Regions from separate parts of the Homo sapiens genome. Here all the other regions are linked to region 2. The links come from fine-mapping of genetic effects on gene expression. A gene starts in region 2. Each other region holds a variant in brackets. All regions are shown on one strand. Distances are from middle to middle.

The links.
Region 1: its variant is fine-mapped to the expression of VGLL3 in lung (TOPMed, PIP above 0.99).
Region 3: its variant is fine-mapped to the expression of VGLL3 in lung (TOPMed, PIP above 0.99).

Annotation. Positions count from the first base shown.
Region 1 is chr3:86,906,064-86,914,469 of GRCh38, forward strand. It overlaps LOC105377196 (a long non-coding RNA gene), which reads right to left. Exons shown (of 6, transcript XR_001740802.2): 3 at 2,923-2,995; 4 at 2,318-2,547; 5 at 1-91. Among named protein-coding and RNA genes, the nearest start is that of VGLL3, 81 kb to the right of the region's middle. The variant A/G (reference allele first, on the strand shown) is at 3,878.
Region 2 is chr3:86,986,375-86,994,780 of GRCh38, forward strand. It overlaps VGLL3 (vestigial like family member 3), which reads right to left and starts at 4,775. Exons shown (of 4, transcript NM_016206.4): 1 at 4,244-4,775. The coding sequence starts at 4,369.
Region 3 is chr3:86,933,224-86,941,629 of GRCh38, forward strand. It overlaps VGLL3 (vestigial like family member 3), which reads right to left. Exons shown (of 4, transcript NM_016206.4): 4 at 4,750-8,406. Among named protein-coding and RNA genes, the nearest start is that of VGLL3, 54 kb to the right of the region's middle. The variant C/T (reference allele first, on the strand shown) is at 4,410.

The DNA of each region.
Region 1 (8,406 bases), 80 kb before region 2:
TCCTCATTTTCAAACACGATTGTGACGAATTGCCTCCCCTGACATAGTCAATTTCATGATCTAGGTGACTTTTGCAGGCCTTGTTGGCTTCCTGTTTGAAATGAATAAAAGGCAATAACACTGCTCAGGTTACAAATGAAATGTTTTTTTATTGACATATTTTATAACTAATATGTAGGTACATTACATAGATTTCAAAATGTACAAAACAAAGTCAAAGAAGAAAATCAGTATCACCTTGTCCTACATGCATACAAGAAAGAAAAATAAATACCCTGCCATTTCCATATATCACAAATATTTTTTCTGGTAACTAAATACTTTTGTAAATAACTATTCTAATGAGTAATATATATTAACACATTCATCCTATAATTCATTTCAATAACCCAATTGTTGATGCCAATTTTTCAGTATTATAAATGTCATAACAATAAAGATATTTATAGACAAATAGATGGCAATTATGTAAAACCTTAAATAGCTTCCTAAGAAGAGAATTTCTGATCTAAAGTTAATAAAGCATTTATTTTTGGTAAGTGCTGTATTTTGTTTTTCAGGAAGTTTATACCAGGCAACAGTAAGTAACATCACTGTTTAAAATATTTCCAGTAATCTTGTTGTATACCTTAAAAAAATTCAATTTTTGTCAGTTGTAACTCAATAAAGCTGATGGAAAAAATAAAAATAGAAGACTTCTGATAAAATTTAATTTTAGTTCAATAGAAATATAATTAATGCATAGTCATTACAGAAAATTTAGAAAATACAGATGAAAATTAAAAATTTGAATAAATTTTGCCATTCACAATTAGTGGCTGTATGTTTTTTCAGCAGAGCTTATGTATATATTAAATACACATTTTTAAAAAGGTAATACAAAGTTTCAAACTCCTCTCTTGACATTGTATTGTGAGTGAGCATTTTATAATTTTTTTTTTTTTTTTTTTTTTTGAGATGGAGTCTCACTCTGTCACCACGCTGGAGTGCAGTGGCGTCATCTCGGCTCACTGCAGCCTCCGCCTCCCAGGTTCAAGCAATTTTCCTGCCTCAGCCTCCCAAGTAGCTGAGACTACAGGCGCCCACCACCACGCCTGGCTAATTTTTGTATTTTTAGTAGAGATGGGGTTTCACCATGTTGGCCAGGATGGTTTTGATCTCTTGACCTTGTGATCCGTCCGCCTTGGCTTCCCAAAGTGCTGGGATTACAGGCGTGAGCCACCGCGCCTGGCCGCATTTTCTAATTTCTGAGTCTCTTTTTCTTCTTCCTTATTTCAGAGATTGGCTACTATCGACAATGTTGCTGTCATCAGAAACTCATGGGTATCACTCCAGACATTACCTTCTTTCTTTTGTCCAGCACCAGCAGCTTACCAAGTCCTAAAAGATTCACTTGTAGAATAATACTTGTAAGTTTCAGCTCCCCTCCAATCGTATTTCCTCTCTTGTTCACTTGTATTACCACAAATACCTTTCAGCAGGTCTTTTGACCGTCAATTTAGCCATTTTATATTCCACATCCCAAGATCCTGTCAGAATTTTCTTCCCAATATTGAAATAACACCCTGTCACTCCTAGGATTATAATGACTCATTTAAGATAAAATCCTAGTTTTTCTGTATAACACTGTTCCCCTTTACTTTTTCAGCTTCATTCATCTCTTGACATTATCTCAGATGTAGCTTGCCCTGAGGCAATGCCAAACACTTGCTGTTCCTTGACTGTTTGCTGCTTTTCCATGAGTGGGTAAGTTCCATATTGGAAGCTTCATGTAGGGGCTCAGAGCTGGGGCTCTGGGTGAATACTGCATATAGTTAATTCTTAGCTGTGTCAGCTGTTGGCTGTTGTCCTTGGGCAATTCACTTAACTTTTTTTTTTTTTTTTTTTTTTTCTGAGATGATAGACTCTTGTTCTGTGGCCCTGGTTGGGCAGGTTCCAGAGATTCTCCCATCTCAGCCTCCCGAGTAGCTGGGACTACAGGTGTGCACCACCATGCCCAACTAATTTTTGTATTTTTAGTAGAGGCGGGGTTTCACTATGTTAGCCAGGCTGGTCTTAAACCCCTGGCCTCAAGTGATCCACCCACTTCGGCCTCCCAAAGTGTTAGGATTACAGGCATGAGACACCACACCCGGCCTCACTTAAATGTTATATGTAACTTACGTTTTCTCACTTGTAAAATTAGGATAATAACAGTATTTGCCTCTACAATCATTAGAAGGATTCATTGTTATTGTTATTAACTAATAACTATGTCTATTAAATAAAGGCTTTCTGTTTTGCCTGCACGTTATATTGATTAACTTGCACAGCTTACCTAACATTGAGATCTCTTCAAAACTTTTTTTTTTTCTGAAACTCAGCTGAGATGCATTCCTCTCTCCTTTTACCTTTGTCCCATCATTTTCATCCAGTGTTGAAATTGTCTGTGTTTGTAACTCCTAAAGCAGACTAAGTTGTCTGAGAGTAGAAGTTGTCTTTCTCCTCTTTGTCGCCAGCATCGAGCAGAAAGCTTAAGCTATGTCCCAAATTGTTGTGCACTGGTATCTGTTTTATGAATGAACAATATTTGATAAATGGTAATTTTGATTAAGATCTTATTCACCACTTTTCTTTTTCTGTGCAATGTTTTCAAGACCTTAGTTAAATTTAAAATATATATATATAAATATATATATATAATATATAAAGGCCTAAGCTTCACATATTAAATTAAAAACATGTAATCTAATTTTAAAGGGAGACAGGGTCAAAATTTACTTTTATCTAGTATTTTATTGTAATATTTTCATGGAGAAAACAAATAGCACATGTCATATAACAAATACAGTGCCAAGCAGGCACATTGACTGATTTTGTATGTTGTAACAATTGCAAGTAAACGCCATGAGAAGACGTGAAGAAAAAAGACATAGAACTTACTTTGCAGGATGCTTAGGGGTCTCTTTAGCTTCAGAAGACACATCCCCAAGATTCTTTAGGCACACCTGGAGATCTGTAACAATGTATAATTCAGAGAATAAGCAAATTAAAACAATGTTGCATCCACTGTTATAAAGAAGACATAAATGGAAGCGTTATGACAGGAACTTTCAGCTCAGCAATGAAATATTTTAGGATGATATTAGTCTTAATTCAAATTATAAAGACAGAGACAAACAAGGCTCTGAAAAGAGAAGGTGAAAAAAGTTAAGGGAGATGAAGAGAACACTCAAAGTCATAAAAGTAGAAATGAGATTGATATCACCAAAAAGAGGCTTTGTGGAGGACGTAAAGCAATTGGCAAATTCTTTTTCTCAGTCTGATGGCGCAACAGGAAATGAAAAAAGGTATATACTACAGAGCATGGAAGGCTTTCACTACTGAAGTATTTAAGAATGAGTGAGGTAAAAGTACTTCATAAATGAAGAAGTTACAAAATGCACTTATGCTTATAATACCACCAATGTTCCTATTAAGTTTCTAACAACAATAATAGTAAATGATAACATAATAGCATTACGACTGATGATGATGAAAAATGATGAATATTATCATTATATTAGTAATCAAGGGGAAGCAAGATGAACAGACAAATGTAGATTTTTCTAGATTATGTTATTTAAATATTTCAGGTTTACTGAACACCTGGTTGTCTAATGTGAATTATTCCAAAGAACACGCTGTTCCTTTCCTAACAAAAAAAGCTTCAAAGGCAAATAAATAATTTCCAATTCCTTTTTGGTCTCCAAGTCACTCTTTACACAAGAGGAATTTGATGAGTTAAGTGTAAATGTGTAAGAAACATGTGGATTGCATTTTGTTTAAAAACATACAAGGGTTTAAAAATTAAGGACGAAAAGTGTTTGGCATAATGCATTTTTGGTGAAGCCAAACC[A/G]GAAACATTTGAGACAGTTTCAGATTGTAGTGTGACCTTCAGCATTGCTTGTGTTTCTGGGTATTAAATGAATCTAAAAATAAACACTATCCTTAACTAGAACTGAAGCAATAAAACCTGTAGCAAGGTATGGACCTGAATGAAAAATTTTTTGAGGATTTACTGAATTTTTTTCTTTTTTCTAAAAAAAAATCTTCCAGTCTGAGAGTTCAAGCAAATGCCCACCATATGTGTCATGCTTTGTGTCTATTGCCTTATTTCTTCCTAAGGTTTCTGGTTCACATAGAAGAGGAGACATCTGAATATGTATAAGAAAAATGTCAACCCTCCCCTAGTGGTAAGATTAATTTAACTACAACTTGTACTCTTCAGTGGGTTCAAATGTGTTCTGAGCTTGAGTCATTTTTGAATGCTTTTGGTCCATACTTTGTTCTAATTTCTCCCTATGTATTTGTTGAAAAGACACTTTTGGAGAATGACATTTTGTTTCTGTCCATAGGCAAGAATTATAAAACATAAATAGCTGGGTTATGTTGAGATTTATTGGTGGGTAAGTTAAGGTGATATGCACTATAACAGGCAACTGCCACTTTAACAGCCTGTAACAAGTGGAAAAAACAAGAAAATGGAAATGCAAAATTATTGTTTTTATTTTTGTTGTGTGCTGCTGGCTTACCTGGTGCCTCTATTGAAGAATGGCATTTCAGTGGTTTTTGCTGTTCTACAAATTCTCTCAGTCATCGCACATTACCTCCATCTCCTTCATGCCGTTTTCCAAGCACAAAGCACTGTGTATTAGTCCGTTTTCACACTGCTATAAAGAACTGCCTGAGAATCTAAAACGGGAGGGGAGAGGACCCACTATCCAGGTGGGCTCTCAATCTAAATACATCACCCCTTAAAGCAAAGAATCTTTTTGGCTTTCAGGAAAAAAAAAAGTGTGGCAGAGGGTGAAGCAAGAGATATGTGACCCAAGGAAAAGTCAGAGAGATTCCAAGCATGAGCAGATTTGACACGCCCTTGCTGGCTTTGAGAAGCAGGAATCCACAGGCAAGGACCTCAGCGGCCACTGGGAGTTAACGACAGCCCCCTAACACAAGTGCAAAAAACTGGATTCTTAGAAGAGTCCAAGTGAGTTTGAAAGTTGACACTTCGGCCGGGCGCGGTGGCTCATGCCTGTAATCCCAGCACTTTGGGAGGCCGAGACGGGCGGATCACGAGGGGATCGAGGCCAACCTGGCTAACACGGGGAAACCCCATCTCTACTAAAAATACAAAAAAAAAAAAAAAAAAAAAAATTAGCTGGGCGTGGTGGTGGGCGCCTGTAGTCCCAGCTACTACGGAGGCTGAGGCAGGACAATGGCGTGAACCCGGGAGGCGGAGCTTTCAGTGAGCCGAGATCGTGCCACTGTCCTCCAGTCTGGGCGATAGAGCGAGACTCCGTCTCAAAAAAAAAAAAAAGAAAAAAGAAAAGAAAAGAAAAGTGGACACTTCCCGGTACCTCCTGATAAGAAACCAGTTTGCCAATATATTTAGTTCAGCCTTGTGAAAAAGCTGAAATCCAGAGCAGAGAAACTAGCTGAACCAACAGAACAATGGGAAAAATGTGTGCTGCTGTTTTAAGCAAATTTGTGCTAATTTCTTACAGCAGCAATAGGAAAATAATACACTCTCAAATATGTTGTTCCTGAGTTATGCCCATTGCCTCCTCAGCTCCACCTGGCATGCTACTTACCTATGGCAATAGTGTACCTTCTGTATCACCTTCCAGTCCCTCCCTAATCCACACAAACATCTTGAAAAAAATTGCATTGTGTTCCTTACAGCCAAATACTCTTAATTAATTAATGTTTGAAAAAGAGAATACCTGGGAGAATCTCTTTGGTTTGACTGGAAAGAGCAATGTATCTTTTGGATAACTTGCCGTTATATATAAGATGTTCTTGTTTGATTTATGGCTATGGACATTTAAGAACAACATTTTAAACTAGTGCATAGCAAACCTAAATATGCATATGTCACACCTAAGGTTCCTGTGAAATTGCAAATTCCGGTTCACTAGGTCTGGATTTGGGCTAAAAAGTCTTCATTTCTAGTAAGCTTTAATTGCATTGTCATTTACTTTTTGTGTGACCTTGAGTAAATTACTTCGGTGTCCAAACCTAATTTTTTTCACCTGTAAAATTGATATTGTGCATATAAATGAGAACATGGATATAAGGGAAACACTGCTTTTTATGCTTTTCTATTACTGCAACTCAGATAACACCAACAAAGCAGCCCAGAAATGCAGGGACGAGCCACGGACAAATCACTCAATTAGCAGATCTCAAGAACTGGTAGAAAGGTCTTAGGCTCTCGTTCTTTATTTAAAACTGCATTCAACACATTCAACACAGTTTTTTGTTTGTTTGTTCATTTGTTTGTTATTGGAGGCAGAGTCTTGCTCTGTCACCCAGGCTGGAGTGCAGTGGCCCAGTCTTGGCTCACTGGAACCTCCACCTCCCAGGTTCAAGTGATTTTTGTGCCTCAGTCTCCCAAGTAGTGGGGATTGTAGGCATGTGCCCCATGCCTGGCTAATTGTATCTTAATAGAGAGAAGGCTTCACCATGTTTCCCAGACTGGTCTCGAACTCCTGAGCTCAGGCAATTCACCCCCATCAGCCTTCCAAAATGCTAGGATCGCAGGCATGAGCTACCATGCCCTGCATCAACATAGTTCTTTAGAGGGACTGAGGCCCATAGCAGATGGAATTCCAGTTGTTCTCAGTGGTAACAAGCTTTCCTCTTTTCTTAGTTTACTTTCCCCACCCCTCTGCTTCTGTTTCTTGGATGCTTTCAAATAAACTACCTTTTCATAAGTCCTTTTCTCAAACTAGTTTGGCATCACAATTACTGATACTGTTACCTATTTTGAAATGTGATAAAAGGTAGAAAAGAGGGAAACATTGGCTTATGCAGTAGCTCTGATACTTGAACTTTGTGGGGGCAATGATAATTTAAAATATTGTAAAATTAGTTGACATTTAATTTGCATTGAAAACCTTGGAGAAACAGAATGACACTGGCCAGAAGACCTTCATGGAAGTTTTTAAAAGACTTTTATTTTCTATAGCTCTGGGTAGACTTTGCTGAAATTCAAGCCCAAGATTTAATAGTAAAGGTAACAAAACTGCAAAGGAGACAATGTTCAGCCTTAGTGCGTCTTTTAAGCTAAAATCATGGCCAAGATACAAAAGAAGTAAGAGACTGATATATCTGGGATAGGAATACCTGGGTTTCTGCATCCAAGGAGGCATGCATTATTGAAGAAAACACTAACGTTTTTGAGAAGTGCAGTATGGCTATCCTCTGCTGTACAGAATTGACAGAAGGAGACAGTTCCATGAGACAAAGGCCCCTAGTGTCAATGAAGCTGACAGAGTTCCGGAATAGCAGAAAACAAAGTGGTGGCGCTTAGCCATCAGAAGCAATACTAGAAGGCACAGACATATCTGTATGGCAAAAAAAGGGTTCCTTAACCTACAGAGAACTCTGGCAATGGTTAAAAGACTGTAGTGTATATCTGGAAGTGAAATAAATGTGCAGCCATCAAAGATGTTGCTTGACATGTATAAAACCAAGAAAAAACTCAAAAGGTAGTAGGCCAAGAGTTCTATCAGATTCTGCAGTAAAAATTTACTACTCCTGGCCCAGTTTTCAGATCTGAGATAGCCTCAGATAGGATCTATTGACCAAAATGAGGATAGATACTCCTGAGGAAAGACCCTTTTATGCCACCAAAAGCATATATCATAAATGTTATATCAGTCTGTCCTCAAAAGTACCTATGGTCTTGTACCAGAGTAACCGCACATTAAGGAAAACGCATAATCAAGCTCTTTCAAAGAGATGTTGAAAACTGAGTCTTATTTCATACTGAAATTAAAGTAACTCTAATTCCTTGTGTATTATGACCAGACGGTAAGTAGATTTCCGGCTTTAAATCTAGCTTATAATGAGTTTAATTTTTCCATGGAATCACCCTGTAGTTATTTCTCAAGACTCTGAATTTTAATCAAATTTAGGATCTGATAGAACCCTTACATTAGATTTCTGATTTGTAGAATAAGAGACATTAGGGTGAAATACCAAGAACAAACCTGAGATTTCCCACCCACTCCCAGTCATGATAGTAAATCAAAAGTCATGCTATATCCAAGTTGAAAGTGTGTAATCACAAGATCATAGACAATCTGATAGAATGTAAGAATGGCCTCATAAAGGTTCAGCCTAGTTGTCACTGTGGGGATGGCACCTTATTTGGTTAGGATACTGCCTTTTGTGACGTGATGTTCATATTTAAGAAATAACTATTATATGATGCCTTGTTCCTAGTACTAGAATACACAGGTGAGAGAATGAAATGTTGAAAGAAGCATCGACCACACTCACCATCCCCCCGTCCCCACAAATGACCCACTGTGGAACTTGTGTTTCTCACTGCTGCACGTTTAGACTCTGTAGATTCTAGGTCTTAAACCCCAATAG
Region 2 (8,406 bases):
CTCGATTCTGGTTGACTGCCAGAGATAAGAGTTCAATTATTTTAACATTTAATTTTTCCTCCAGCTTTGAATTTTCTGGCTGGGAAGTTATAGGGAGCATGAAGCTGTGGGGCACTTTAAGTCTCGAAGTCTCTACAGTGAAGTTAATTTGTGTAGTGTGAAGTTATAGGGGCTGTTCTTTCTCAAAGAAGTCCTGTATAAATTTTTATAAATCTACTTAAGTCCTTACTTACAGTTGCAAGAAAAATAGATCCTCTGCCTCAAATAAGTTGTCTGTGAATTGAAACTACTTTGGTTATAACTGTATTCTTTTCTCTTAATGAATCTAAACTTATGTTGGAATAGCAATAATAGATGAGACACTTAACTGCTAATACCACTTCCTGTATTTTATTTTAGATAAATAAATATTCATTTGCTAACTGGATATACTGTTTCATCAACAAGGGTGCAACATGGATAGCATAAGTCATTAGCATAATCCAAATGCTTGCTAACGGCCTTTGGAATGCCTAAACTTAAAAAAGTACACTACCAAGGACTTGGAAAGAATCTCGCACTCCAACGCCAAAGAATCTATTGCATATTAATCTTCATTAGAAAAAAAATTGATTGGGGACCTAAAGACAAAAATAAGCCTATTGTGCAATAGCAAAACATTAAAAAAATTTAAAAAGCTTTAGGAAATTTCATGTCATTGTACAAAGATGCTACACCGGAGAAAGGGGGATCTGGTGATCCTAATTTTGTCACCAGCTTTGAAATCTTTAGCTAGGCATTTCAGCCCTATAAAAATCCATTTTCTCACTTGTAAAAAGAAGAGTTGAAGTTATGTTTTTCCAGGGCTTTTTTCTCTGACAAACCGAATTGCAGAACAATTTTATGACTCAACCAACGTAGCAGAGTCCAGAGAGAGTTTGAAAAAACACCTTACAAAACTTATAACTGAAGTTCTCCCTCCAAGGGCACTTAATTTTTTCAAGTGAAAGCATGCATGCAGATTCATCCAGCTGTTACCCTGGAAGAGGACAGAGTAAATATACTCCATTTTATATGAAGCCCAAAGTGTGATTGTTAAAAATCCCCATGCACAATTAGAAAACCAGTGACTGTTCTCTGTCTCATCTATAAACTGCATAATTCTGAAACCTTTGACAGCATGTGCTGAGAGACTGAGTCAAGGGTTCTCCTGAGGAGTTGTTAGAGACTGACATATTAAAGCCAGAAAGAGATGGTGGGCATGCGAAACAGGTCACCCAGCATCCCTCAGTAATTTTGGCTCTATAAACCCCACTGTAGGATTTATACCCAGCCATGCAATTTCTAGTAATTAATGTCAGGGACAATAAAATGTATACTTTGCACATATTTTAGCTTACTTTGACTTTTTAGCCCACTGTATACCTAAGTAACACACTGCAGTGCAAGCTAATATATATATACAGTTAACTAGGTTTTTAAAATGACATTCACTTATTACCCACCTACAACATGCAATATGTTCAACAAAAACCTAAACTTAAATTTCAGGTGCACATTTGTGCTTATCGGAAAACAGGTGAGAGTACACATGCCTGGATAATGAAGTTCTGTTATTTCCAAAATAATTCTCAATGTTATATGATCATTTGTTAAGAGGAAAAATATACCTGTGTTTAAAATCCATCATAAGGAATCATTTTGATACAGTAATTAATAAGGACTTCAGAGCCATACAGTTTGAGGGGGAAATTAGTTGACAGATACACTACTACAATTGAATACAGAAGTAATATAAAACTTTAATGCTGTCTTTTCTAGCATTTTTTAAATGGCTATTAAAATTTCTTGATTGCTGTTACTTTTCTTCGCTCCTTTTCCATTTTTTCCTTCTCCAAAAATCAATTTTTCAAATTCAGTAGGAGTTGTAGCCCTTACTTTTGTCTCCCAGGCAAGATGCTATTAGGGGTCACTTCCCATGTACGGAGAAAACAATCTTCATGGATAATAATGATAAAACCTTATGGAATGCAAAAACAACCAAAATATGTATTCTCGGATGACTGCATTAGGGCCAAGTCAATATTAGTCCCACTTCACCCACGCATTGCATAGTCTAAAAATGCTGTCAGCCTGATAAGAATTTCCTGATTTACTCTCTTTTCCAATAGAAAATGTAGGTCATCAAAATAAACTTCTGACACTAAAAGAACAGTAGTTACACTGTCAAGTCTTTTTTTTTTTATTTCGTTAGCCAGTTATGGTCAAACAGTTTCTTTACTTGACCAAAAAAAAAAAAAAAAAAAAAAAAAAAAAAAAAAAAAAAAAAAAAGAAGAAGAAGAAGGAGAAGAAAAAGAAGAAAAAGCAACATGAAAATTTCCAAGCACCTCCCTATGGCTCACTCAGCCTAACATCTAGTTAAGCAATGTCTACAAAAGCCCAAAATATAGAAGTTGATCATTATGTAACCAATCAATGTAGATAAATTGTTTTCTTTTTAAGAAGCTCAATGGTCAGAGTTTTCCTGATTTTTATTTTATTTTATTTTTTACTTTTTAAAATTGTTGTCTTCAGTATGTTGACGGTTTTAGCAAAAGAAATGAATTTGGGGACCGAGTCTCAGGGCTATTGCAAACATTATATAAAGTACTGGAGTCATTTCTTATTGAAAACTTTTATGATTGGCAATTTGCCATTTTCTCTGATACCGAATGTTATTTTCTAGCTCAAAAAAAAGTGTTACAGTATTAACTCCACACCACAGATTCATTAATTTCACAACCCTAAAAAATAAAGCCATATTTGAAACAACTTCTACTAGTTTGTTATTTTATAAAGGAGGAAAGTATCTTTCTGAACATGTAGAGAAGTTTTAGTTTGTTGCTCATCCACATTCCAAATGATAATTGAAGACCTCTGTAATATCAGAGATGCTTTGAAATGCTGGTGCTGCTGAATATTTTTTTTAAGAGGATAGCAAGAAAGTAGGGCTCCTTCCTCTTTTGCCCTAATTGGTTCTGGTTAAGCTGGTACTATTTAGCAGATGAATCTGGGGCATGTACCCTTCCAGAATTAGCTGAATTTCATAGTTCCTAAATTCTAAACGGAAAGTTAGATTTCTTTCTAAAGAGTAGCACTGTAATTCTAGCAAAGAGACAGAAGTAGAGGAAATACAGAAAGTAAAATGTCAGATTAATTAACAGCCCAAACCTAAGAAGGTTTGCAATAAAACATGTGGTACCTAAGAAAGTAAAAAGAAATAAATCAATATATTCTATGGATGGTAATTTCCTAACCAAATCTAGTTATTTTTTTTAAGTTTCTCCAAATCCGCCCACCCTAATTCCCATAGTCTGAGGTGGACTCTATTTTGGTACAGCCCTTGCCACATACATTTTTTATTTTAATGTAGCACTAACTAAGCCTTGGCACACTCTCCGTTGTATCCAGAGAGTAATGTCCAAGGGCGCCTCGTGCCAAATTCCCCAGAACTCTACTGTTCCTTCTAAAGTAACTATATCATCTCCTCAGTTCACGACCCCTTATTATGGACATCTTCAGTTACTCTTGGAAGAGTGGAGACTCAGCATCCAGAGATTCAAGGTAACCTTTTGGCCGAGGGACCCACTGTCAACAGACTGAACACGTACAAACTCTGTGCTTTGCTGGAATTAAAAAATGAATGAAGAACCTTGGAATCCATCCCTGTCCTCTAAGTCACAGTCACCGGGAGAAAGATTCTGTGGAGAAGTTCTAGTAACACCCGATAGACATTATGCTAGACCAGTGTTCCCCCATGAAAGTCCCAGATCATTTCGTGAACTCACTCTCCAGGTAGCTTCCCCTACCTCTGTCAGCGCACTTCATCTTCCTCATCAATAAAACCCTGAAACATTCCATCTTTCCAAATAAACAAAATAGTTGGTTGAAAGGAAGTTTACTCACATGGTCCTAAGATAGATGCCCTTGGTGAGCTTCAGAGAACTGAGTCCTAAGAGCTAGGGTGCCTAGGAGGAGCAGCCTCTGAGCTCCGGTGACCACAGCTCAATGAAGCCCCCAGCTAGGTCATGCCTCACCCACCCGTCCACCCTGCTGCTCTCCCTTCCCGGCTCTCTCGGGATGGCTTTCTGCTCAAGGACGCTCCCGCAGATCCCAGAGCATCCTCTGCGCCACGCGTGCCGGCGGGACGTCGCCGAGCCCCAGACCGATACTCTCGATGCCCTTCGCCCCCGCCCCCAGCAGGCTGCCCGTCCGGTGACTCACCTGCTGGCCAGGTTGGGGCGCCGGCTGATAGTAGGCTGTGGGGCAGGTTGTCGCTGCCATGGGGTTGGGCAGATACTGGGACGCTCCATAAGGCTGGGGGTGATACATCACCTCCGCACAACTCATGGCAGCCGGGGCAGTGGCGGCCCCCGAGCTGCCGCCGCCGCTCTACGCGCTGGCGCGAGGGGCGCGGGCGCCGCCGCCGCCGCAGCTGCCGCCTCTGTCGCTGCTCCAGCTGCTACTGCGGCGAAGGCGGGTCCTCGGCGGCCTCGGGCTCCGCGCGGGGCGCGGGGTCGGGAGGGACTGGCAATCAGCGGGGGCCCATGCGCGGGCACCTTCATCTTCAGCCCCTCCGGATGTTCCCTGCCGCGCTTATATAGCGGCTCAGGGACGCAGCCGCCCGCTGCGCCGCTGGGGCATTACCGCGTCCGGCTCCCGCGAGGGCTGCGGCGCCCACGGCAGCGCCAGTCACAGCCACAGCCCAGGCCCGGGTCGGGCAGCCGTGGGGAGCCCAGCTCCGGTTTGCATATACACAATGCACGCCCGGGGCTCGTCCTATCACGGGTGCTCCCGGCTGTGCGAGGACAGGGAGGCGGGGGCAGAGGGAGGGGGAACGCCGGGGAGAAGGGGGAGCACTTTGCCTCCCCAGGCTCTGACGCGGAACTTTGCAAAGTTTCTCCAACTCGCTTTGCAGCGGGCGGGTCACCCTGCAGGGGGACCCCGGGGAAGGCTGGCTGCGGATTGGAGCGAAGTTTGCAGCCCTCTCCGCCTCCCAGCATGGGATGGTGGTGGGAGGGGAATGGTATGCAGAGGCTCCGCGCCCTCAAGGCTCGGCAGGTTCCCACCCTGTCTCTGTCACCTGGCCGCCAGGGCGAGGGCTTCCCTACTCCAAGGAGATTTTACAGGGAACACCAACTCAGAGGCTGGGACCAAACAAAAGCCGAGTGTACAAAGGGGTAAAACAGAGCAGGCGCAGAATACACGGGGATTAGCTCCTACATTAAAATAATCATAAGTGAAAGTTAACATCTCTGCAAGTGCCCACATGCCAAGAATGCAACACAGTTTTCCACAAGCAATCTCTGCTTTAAGTTTACATCTTCATGGTATGACACTGCTGTGAGACGTCCACCATTTCTGGCTTTTACAGCCTGGTTTTCACAGAGCAATAAAGGGTAGTTGATTAAGCCCATTCGCTAATAAAGGTTTATCTCTTTGCAATTGGATCTGACCCTCTCCAAAATGGGGAAAAAAACGTCTGTGAGAATATACTTGTATTCTGACATAATCAGTAGAAATAATTATACTCACATTATTTTATTTATTTTGAGATAGGGTTTCCTTCTGCCGCCCAAGCTAGAGTACAGTGACATGAGCACAGCTCACTGCAGCTACCACCCCCACGCTCAAGAGATCCTCCCATCTCAGCCTCTGGAGTAGCTGGGACTACAGGCGTGCATTACCACGCCCAGGTAATTTTTTTAATTTTTTTTTTTATAGAGAAGGGGTCTTGCTATGTTACCTAGGCTGGTCTCCAACTCCTGGCCTCAAGTGATCCTTCTGCCTCGGTCTCCCAAAGTGCTGGGATAACAGGCATGAGGCACCGCACTGGGCCTCATTTTATAAATGAGCAAACTCTAGCTCTGAGATTCAGCAAACATATCTCTCCTTATACGTAGGCATCCTCTTTTATGACTCACAGCAATCTCTCATTTTTACAGTCTATCTTTTCTCAGAGAAAAAGTCAGTTTGAAAGTCAAATGCACTAATGTTTTTATAGTTTGAATTATGTCTTCCCAAAAATGTATATATTGAAGCCCTAACCCACAATATGGCTGTATTTGAAGACAGGACATATAAGGAGGTGATAAGGTTAAATGAGATTTAAAAGGTTGGGCCCTAATCTAATAGGACTAGGTTCCTTATAAGAAGAGAAAACACGCCAGAGATATCTATGTCTCCCCCAAACCCCACTCCCTGTCTCTCTGCTCTGTCAAAGAGGAAAGACCATCTGAAGTCATAGTGAGTTACCTACAAGCCAAGAAGAAAGGTCTCACCTTGAAACCAACACTGACCACACCTTATCTTGTGCTTCTATCCTCCAGAACTATGAAAAAATTAACTTTTTTTTTTTTTTTTTTTTTTTGAGACGGAGTATCGCTCTGTTGCCCAGGCTGGAGTGCAATGTCACGATCTCGGCTCACTGCAACCTCCTCCCGGTTCAAGTGATTCTTCCGCCCCAGCCTCCCGAGTAGCTGGGATTACAGGCACCCGCCATCATGCCCGGCTAATTTTTGTACTTTTGTAGAGACAGGGTTTCACCATGTTGGCCAGGATGATCTTGAACTCCTGACTTCAGGTGATCCGCCCACCTCGGCCTCCCAAAGTACTGGGATTACAGGCGTGAGCCACGGTATGCCCAGCTTAATTTGTTTTTTTAGGCCACCTAGTTTGTGGTATTTATGACAGCCCTAGCACACTAATGCAGATATACAGTTATCATATATCGTTAATGTTTACATAAGTGTCTGTGTGTATGTCTAGGTACACAGATACATACACATGTATAAACACACAGGCATACACACACACACTGACACTATAAAAATTGGATAGGAACTTTTTGCTACGCCGCAACAGCTTTTATTCAATCATTTTATCACTGAATATTAAAAACATATTTATTAAGGGTTTGCACAGTTCTTGGACTTTAAATTGTGCTCTTTGTAGTACAAGAGTATTTCCAGCAATAATATGTTTCATAATTTACTTTAAACGTTTATTATTGTCTTTTCCCAAATTGACCTCCTTTGATCAGATCCCTTCCTGTGTTCCAGATTTATCTATTCAGTTCTTTCTAGGTAGCTCCACATAGGTGTTACATAAGGACCTCAATCCTAATAGTACTGATTGTCTCATGTCCCCAGTTTGATCCTCTTTTTTAATCTTCATCTCTACTGAAACTCCCCCACTACCAGTTGTCCCAGCTAGAAATGTGGGAATCTTCTGGCACTCCTTCCTTCTCCTCACAGTCCCCACACCTGGTCTTGGAGTCAAGTTGACCCCAAATTTTCCATTTCTACTGACTCTCTCCTTATCTCTGTTGCTATAATCGTTAGTTTGCTCGGCATCTCTCACTCAGACTCCTGCAAGAGACTCTTAGTGATTTCCGGGTCCCAAGGCGAGACTTCTTCCTGTTCTTCATAGTTTATACTACTCTTTAATGACCCAGCCACTGCAAATCCAACTGTGCAATGATGATTCATTCTTCTTTTAAAAATTTCACAGTCACATCCCGCAGTCTGTAGAAACAACTCTTTAACCTTCAGATTCTGATCCCTGCCCATGTCACTACCTCCTGCAAATGTTTACCAGCTATCTGAATTGAGATCTGCATTCTGCGAAGAAGCCGTGGTACTTTCTACCAGCATGTCATTTTACATATGAGCAGAGCATTTGCACCAACACATCCCTCACCCTCTTCACTTGTTAACTCCTTCTTGCTCTTCATGTAATTGTCTTCCAAAACATCCGATGAGGATCAGCTTTAATGCTCCTATTTTCACCAGCTCTTGTTCTTTTAAGAATACGCTCCCATCATACTAATAATTAACTACTTGATTTGAAGTTGCTTATTTGCTTGTTTCCCCAATATGACCATGGCTGCTTGAGAGGAGAGACTGTGACTTTTATCTCTAAATTTCACTAAATTTCAATCATATGATATCTGGCTTAGTAAATATTCTTTGAATAAGTAAAGTATATAATAGGAGGAGAAACAAAAACTATTAGAATAACTTACAAATTCTTGGTGGGATCTGAGCACATATAAAATCAGTGAAGCTATAATGTAGAATATGATTTCAAACTCTGTCTTAGGCTTTCTGCTGTATGTTAGATTGAGAAAATCCTTATGATGTTAAAAAAAAATAGGACCTAGAATATAAAGTGACTGAATTAGGACACAGAGCAAATTTGTGAGGACAGCCACTTCTCAATGCCAAACCTCCTGTTCAAATGTTTAATGCCTCCAACTTTTTTCAAATAACTTTTATCTGTAGTTGATTTTTTTGTACAATTATGAGTTTAATATCTGTCTTTTTAGCTAGACTTTGGCAGAGGTTATTTATATCTTGTTCATCTCCATATCTAACACTTCGAAG
Region 3 (8,406 bases), 53 kb before region 2:
GGTTACCTGCAGTACGATCTCTAGACTTCTGCCTTACTTATATTTTGTATGTGAATGTGAGCAAACACTAGGCACTCAATATTAATCATATAGTAGATTGAGATGGAGCTTGGTGTAGTGGAAAATACATGAGCTATGAAATTACACAACTGGACTTTTAATCCTGATTCTGCTGTGTCATATTATTTAAAATCCCTGCAACTCAGTTTCTCATCTCTAATGTGAAAATAAGGAAACTCGCCTTGAAAAGTTGTTCTGAGGATTCCAAGAGGTGACTTTTGTAAAGTTCCTGGTTATAGATGCCTAGTAAATTTGAGCCAGTACTAATTGATGCATAAAATTCTAAGCTTCCTGGGAAGTCTAGTACTTGACAGGCACTTACACATTATCCCATCTAATCTGCATATCTATCCTATAATGTAGGTATTACCATCTCCTTTTTACTAATGAGGAAGGGTACATTTCCCATGTCAAACAACTGGCAAGTGGGGAGTAGGAGGATGATAGAATCTTATAGCCTCTCAGCTTTCTGACACAGAAGCTGCAGATTAAGACAAGTGTTTTGAAATGATTTATTCTATTCATGTTTGTTAAAGTCTTGCCCAAACACATACTCTAAGTGTGAGAAATGAGGGTACTTCATTAAAAAAATTTTTCAGGACTAAAATGTAATTTTGATTTTTTTTCTAGCAGACAAAACAAGTGCTGAACACCTAAAGAGATTGGGGAGTTGACAGTTTCAGATGAAAAATAAGATGTCAACATCAAGAAGCTATAATTCTTCCAATCCGGTATAAGATTTGAGGATAAGCTGAGTAAAGAAATAATTATATTCCTTGAGATCAGAAGTATATGTCAGATGAATTTATTCTGTATCCCCAAGTGGCAAATAATGTTCTACAATTCCAAAGTCTCTCATAGCTCTCATTCATGAAAGCCACATTACTCTCCCTCACTCTTCCAAAGTATCCTATCCTTCCTGGCCATTTTTAGCTTCTCCTACTGTCTCTTTTTATCCCAGTTGGCTATGAGATTATAAAATCTTCTCACAGCAAATACATTCAGATGTGACAATAGCAAAAATTTGGGGGTGGTATGGAGTTCTGAGTTTCCTGTTTGGCTAAATCTGGGTTTGGATCCTGGCTCTGTCACTCACAGCTGGGTGCCTATATTAGTCAGAGTTATCTACAGGAGAAGAACTAATAGGAGATTTTATATATCTATATATCTATATCTATATCTATATCTATATATCTATATATATATATATATCCCAACACACAGACTCAAATGTTAATCTCCTTTGGCAACACCTCACAGACACACCCAGGATCAATACTTTGCATTTTTCAATCCATTCAAGTTGACACTCAGTATTAACATCACAAGTCCACCCCTTGTCGAATTGAACCCATACACATCTCCTGAAATCATACATAACTTCAAATAAAGACAATAATAAGGTCATAATTACACCTAACATACTACAACTCTCCTTCATACAACCAGAAATGCAACAATCCCTAATCCAAATGCTATTACATTAAGTTAACACACATAAATGCTGACATGAAGTCATTAAATCTTACGTCACATGATAAAGGAAAAAGGGAATAAAATGAAGATATTTTCTTAGTGCAAGTGTATACTTGCACAAACATATTTCTAACAAAAGGAGAAGGAAATACTCATGACAATTACAGTCCCCATTTCTGCAGCTGGTCACATGGTCGTAGCTGATATTGATGACTACCTTGTTCTGCTACCCATTCTGTATTCCCTTTGCCTTCAGCAAGCATCTTGGCAGGTCGTGGTTTTTTCCCCTGGTGGAGTTACCCAACCGTCAGTTCTTGACTTCTGTGCACTCACAGGCTCAACATCATGTGGAAGCTGCCAAGGTTTAAGCCACAGCCCAGCCTCTATGTTGGGCCCTTTCAGCCACCACTAGAGCAGCTGGGATGCACCAAGACCTTAGGCTGCACACAGCACAGGGACCCTGGGCCCAGCCCACAAAACCATGTTTTCCCCCTAAGCCTCCTGAGATGGGAGGGACTGCCATGAAGACCTCTGATATGCCCTGGAGACATTTTCCCCATTGGCTTGGGGATTAACTTTCAGCTCCTTAGTATTTATGCAAATTTCTGCAGCCGGCTTGAATTTCGCCTCAGAAAATTGATTTTCCTTTTCTATCACATTGTCAGGCTGCAAATTTTCTGAACTTTTATGCTCTGCTTCCCTAATAAAACGGAATGCCTTTAACAGCACACAAGTAACCTCTTGAATGCTTTGCTGCTTAGAAATTTATTCCACCAGATACTCTAAATCATCTCTCTCAAGGTCAAAGTTCCACAGATCTCTAGGGCAGGGCAAAATTCCTCGTCTTTTTGCTGAGACATAACAAGAGTCACCTTTGCTCCAGTACCCAACAAGTTCCTCCTCTCCATCTGAGACCATCTCGTCTTGGATTTCATTGTCCATATCACTATCAGCCTTTTGATCAAAGCTAGTCAACAAATCTCTAGGAAGTTCCAAACTTTCCCATATTTTCCTGTCTTCTTCTGACCCCTCCAAACTGTTCCAACCTCTGCCTGTTACCCATTTCCAAAGTTGCTTCCACATTATTGGGTATCTTTTCAGCAGTGCCCCCACTCTACTGGTACCAATTTACTGTATTAGCCCATTTTCGTGCTGCTGATTTCATACCCGAGACTGGGCAATTTACAAAAGAAAGAGGTTTAATGAACTTACAGTTCCACATGATTGGGGAGGCCTCACAATCATGGTGGAAGGCAAGGAAGAGCAAGTTACATATTACATGGATGGCAGCATACAAAGAGATAGCTTGTGCAAGGAAACTCCCCTTTGTAAAACTATCAGATCTTGTGAGACTCATTCACTATCACAAGAACAGCACTGGGTCCCTTCCACAATTCTTGGTAATTATAGGAGCTACAAGATGAAATTTGAGTGGGTGCTCAGGGCCAAATTATATCAGTGCCCTTCAGAATGAACTTAACTGATGATTTCCTCAATTACTGAAAAGTTAGATTAATTAAAGAGCAACAACAATATTTACTTAGTGATAAGTAAATTAAATACTTAATTCTAGTAACAACTCTGTGAAGTAGTTTCCTTTAATATCTTCATTTGATGGCTGGGCTCAGTGGCTCACGCTTGTAGTCCCAGCACTTTGGGAGGCTAAGGCAGGCAGATCACAAGGTCAGGAGTTCGAGACGAGTCTGGCCAGTGAAACCCAGTCTCTACTAGAAATACAAAAATTAGCTGGGCATGGTGGCAGGCACCTGTAATCCCAGCTACTTGGGAGGCTGAGGCAGGAGAATCCCTTGAATTCAGGAGGCAGAAGTTGCGGTGAGCCGAGATCCAGCCACTGCACTCTAGCCTGGGTGACAGAGCTAGACTCCCGCTCAAAAAAAAAAAAAAAAAAAAAATCTTCATTTTACATACAGATGACCACACTGTGACTTAAAGAGGTGAAGAAAATTATCCAAAATATACAGCTTCTAAGTAGCATTGCTGAAACTCAACCCCCATTTTTATATTGCTAACAGCTTCTCAAATAATGCTATCTGCATATTGCTATTTGTGAGAATCACTTGAGGTGAATTCATGTAATACTCATGATAGATCAATGACTTTCATTAAATATTGGTTCCTATTTCTTTGTATTTATATAGCACTTTATTTTTCCCAAATCAGTTTAGATTTATTTCACTTGATCTTCCTTGGACAGATAAACAGAAATATAAGATTAAATAATATCAACAAATCACCAGTGGAAATGGTCCTAGGATGTGGGCCTTCTCTCTTCATATTTGGTACCTTCTTTCCTTCAAACCTTCAATTCTTCAAGATACCATAAGAAGAAACTTTGAATTTTAACTTTTCTTGTGTCCTCCCTCCATTTTCGGGCTCTGAGGAAAGGCATATGAAAATAGGGCATATGCTTATTTTCATAAAAGGATGAGTGCCTTGATGTTACAGAACCTGATAGCACACACTTAAAATGATTATTTTGCCATCTTTGGAATCATCATGGCTGGAGGGCCACTCACAACAGGACTTTTCCTCTTCTTGCAATGATAAGCCTTAATGGAATCTGGCCTGCAGAGTGTCTGGGCTGTGTGTGAGCCTGATGTCAGATCAAGTCCAAGCAAGTTCCCCGAAGCTCAGGCTTTACAACATCGTGTAACTCAGAAACATTCCATCAAGCCACCACCCACCTTTTCCAGTGGGAATCTACTAAAATGATTTTCTTGGAAGCAGTGTGGAAGTAGGGGGAAGGGTGTTAAATTTGTGCTTTTGGAGTGGATTGTAGATGGGTGAGTGGGTGGAGAAAAGAGCGGGGGGGGGGGCGGGAATTAAAAGCAAAGATGGAAAAAATAACCACA[C/T]TGCCACCAAAATATTCTGCTCAAGGATGAGGGAGTTCACCCTACAGCTGTTAGCGCTGTTCAGCATATTTTGCATATTTATATATACCAAGTATTTCCAAACAGCCTTGTGTTTGTTTTAAAATCCCACACGGAGATGTCTGGTAAAGCTGTCACTGCAGAAACTTCATGGTGAAGTTTGTAAGACTACTTTCAAAATTCTTTATATGCATCATAAACTGAGCAGAAGAGCTATTGTCATTAACCACATTATAGAGAAATCTAAACTAATCTGCCTACCCATCAGACAACACTCAGAACAAAGCACCCATGTTCTAAGACAAAGAAAGAACCTCGTTGATTGAAGCCAATTTTTTTTATTGTTGGTGTAATTTGTTTAACACAAAATGGCACATAGCATGATATCATGTCACCCATTGATCCTTGATTAGTCCTGAAGTTATCAAAGTATGATTTTTCTTTATTTCTGTTGACTCTAATCTTTGACTTAACGATATTTTCCCAGACTTACTGAGTTATAATTGACACATAAAAGTTATATATATTTAAGGTATACGATATGATGATTTGATATAGGTAAACATTGTGTAATCATTATCACAATCAAATTAATTAATACAACCATAACTAGAAGTATTTTTTGTAAGAAAAATGATAACACTGGACAGATTTTTCATGTAGCCATTTTCTTTTGGAAACATAAAATACCACAAAACCATACATAGCTCATTTGAAAAAGATTCTTAAGCTTTCAACAGAAGGAATAGGGGAGTTTAAAGCTATATTTTCCTTTTAGCAAGATCCACAAGAAAGGATAGAGTGTCATGCTTAAAGGGGAACAGATTTTGTATTTTTTGGCAAGATATTAAATCCTCTGTTGCTATATTTGGCTCTCTGCAAATAGTCTCTTGTACAAGTGCAAAGCAAAGATCAATGCTGATGTTCTTCATTCAGTCACAGCCAAACTTGGTATGGAAAGTAAAACAGTTGTGCTTGAGTGTTGTTTCGAACAAAGTCTTGCAGCTCATTTATTGATCAGCAGCATTCCAGAGTATGGATACCTTCTTTACACATTAAATCTATCAAAACATGTTTGCTTTTCCATAACAGTTTTCCACTGCTTAACTGATAGCAGATGGAGTGATTCAATCTGGACAAAAGTGTTAAAGCTTTACCACGTCAATGTGGTCATATTTAGCTATTTAGTCAAATGTGTATAAGCAGGTCAAATAAGATGCTTGGAGACTTAGGACATCGCAAGATGGGTCTAAGTTCCCAAAAAAGGAAGCAAAACAATTAAATCCTACTTGGTTGTCCCCAGAGAAAACACACTTCAGCTAGGAAGAATCTGCACTAGATGACCTGTTCTCCACCCCCTAGACTGCTCATCTTACATAAGTAACACATAACCCTTTGGATTCTGAAGCACTATAATAACTACATGAAACATTTGAAATAGTGACAGGAATTTTCTTTACATGCAATTATTTAATGAATGAAGATAAACCCCCACACAAATGCCAACGCAAACATTATGACTTGCTACTCCCAGTGAAATAGTCCTTCTCGATTACAAGAGTGATAGAAAATGATGGAAGTCCAATACTAATTGTTGTAGGTAGAATAATGGCTCCAAGTCCTAATCCCCAGAACCATTGAATATGTTACTGTACATGGAAAAAGGGCCTTTAAAGATGTAATTAAGAACCTTGAGCATGGCGCAATGGCTTATGCCTGTAATCCCAACACTTTGGGAGGCCAAGGCAGGCAGATCACGAGGTCAGGAGACGGAGACCATCCTGGCCAACATGGTGAAATCCCGTCTCTACTAAAATACAAAATATTAGCCTTGTGTGGTAGCACGCATCTGTAGTCCCAGCTACTCGAGAGGCTGAGGCAGGGGAATCCTTTGAACCCGGGAGGTGGAGGTTGGAGTGAGCCGAGATCGCGCCACTGCACTCCAGCCTGACGACAGAGCAAGACTCCATCAAAACAAAACAAAACAAAACAAAACAAAAAAACAAAACAGAACAAAAACCTTGAGATGAAGAGATTATTCTGGATTACACAGATGCAGCTATTGTAATCACATGAGTCCTTAAATATGTAAGGGAGAGGAAGAAGAGGAAGTCAGTGATGTCATGTGAGAAGGTCTTGACCAGGTTGCTGGATTTGAAGATGGAAGGAAACTAAGCAAAGGACTCTAGAAGCAGGGAACAGCAAGATTCTCTCTTGGAAGCATCCAGGAAATGCCTCCTACATTCTGTAGCCCACCAAGACTAAGATCTTTGCTGAATGTCTGACTGACAGAGCTGTAAGATAATAAATTTGTGTTGTTTTAGGCCGTTATCGTTGTAGTAATGTAGTAATATTTTACAGCAGTTCTAAAAATCTCATTTTGACACCACATTCTAAATATGGTAGACAGTTAAAAAGCCTGCGCCAAATTATTTCATCTGTAATGCTGGAAAGTCTATTATTTAAATGCTGATTTTCAGACTTTAGTACTTTCACATTAAAGATACGTGTAATAAGAAAATTGAAGGCCCACTTAGAGAAACTCTAGCTTTCTTCAGAATACAAGGTCTTGGAATTCTCTTTTCAATGTTAATGAATCGTAGAAAAGTTTTTGTTTGTTTTTTCATACTACTTATGGCAGAGTCCCTGTCAACAAATGTAAAAACAATAAAATACACCTTGGTCAACCAATATCCTTAGAAGCATTGTATTATAAAATTCTCAAGACTCTTGCTGTTATGTAATTAATATACCCCATTTCATTTTCTTTTCCATTATAAACATGTATTTTATAATCTATTCCTTGCTGTAACATATAGACTTCTTGGCCCTAGAAATTAACTTCTTAATTAATAACACCTAAGATGTTGTAATTTCCAAAATATTTATAAGATGCTTAATTGAATAAGGAGGAAACAAAAAGAGCTTTAAATTCTCAAGAAATGCAGACCAAATCCAAATGCTATGTTAAAATACAAACATTCAATTCACATTAAATTATTTATTGAACAAATTGAAGATAATGACATATGTTTTTATTACAAAGTCTTCCATCATCTTATATCATTGACACATATTATGAGACCTGCATTTGAAGAGTGAATAGAAATAAGAAAATGTTTTCCCAACCCCACAAAAACAGAAAAAAATATATAATTTTATAATTATCTTATAAAGCCAAAAGTTTTATGAATTATACTTTTTTTATTAGTTAAAAATGACAGCATAACTAAGGTTAATTTTTATTTCTGGAAACACAAAATTAAGGTAGCACAACTTCTTGTAGAACTAACAAGTCTGAAAGTTCATGGTATTTCAATGCAGTAAAATAATATTTCTATTGTTAGTTTTCAGTTTACCTAATCAAGTGACAAATATAAAATTCACTACACTGTATTTTTGTTGACAAAAGCATTTCACCTTACCTAGATTTATATAATAAAAACAAATTGTATCCATCTTCCCTTTAAATATATGTACTTCAAAGTGATACAAAGAATTCACATGAAAACCTTTCCCTATGTTTTATCTCCTGAAAAAAAAAATGTATGGAATAGTATTTTTAAATCAGATATAATATCCAATATTATACATATCCTAAGAAATTAAATCAATTGTGTAAATAATCATTATTAACTTTTGCTCTAGCCACGGCATAGAAAGAAATGTACATCTCTATTAATATAAAGTGATATCAATAGGAAAGTTCACATCTTATGCATATACCAAAAAAACTAATTAAAGTATGTTGCATTTTAAAAGAATTATTCTTATGCCAAATTTAGTAGTCTAGAAATTGTTTTTTTTTTTAAAAAAACAAATTGATGATTACTTATCCTTTTCTAAAAGGTGTCTGTTTGCTTATACAATGGAATTGGTAAAAGTACACTTATTTATAATAGAATTTCTTGGAACTTAAAAAGGAGATTCAGAAAAACTTATTGGATCAAATTAAATTGACTAGAACTTCAAGAGAATA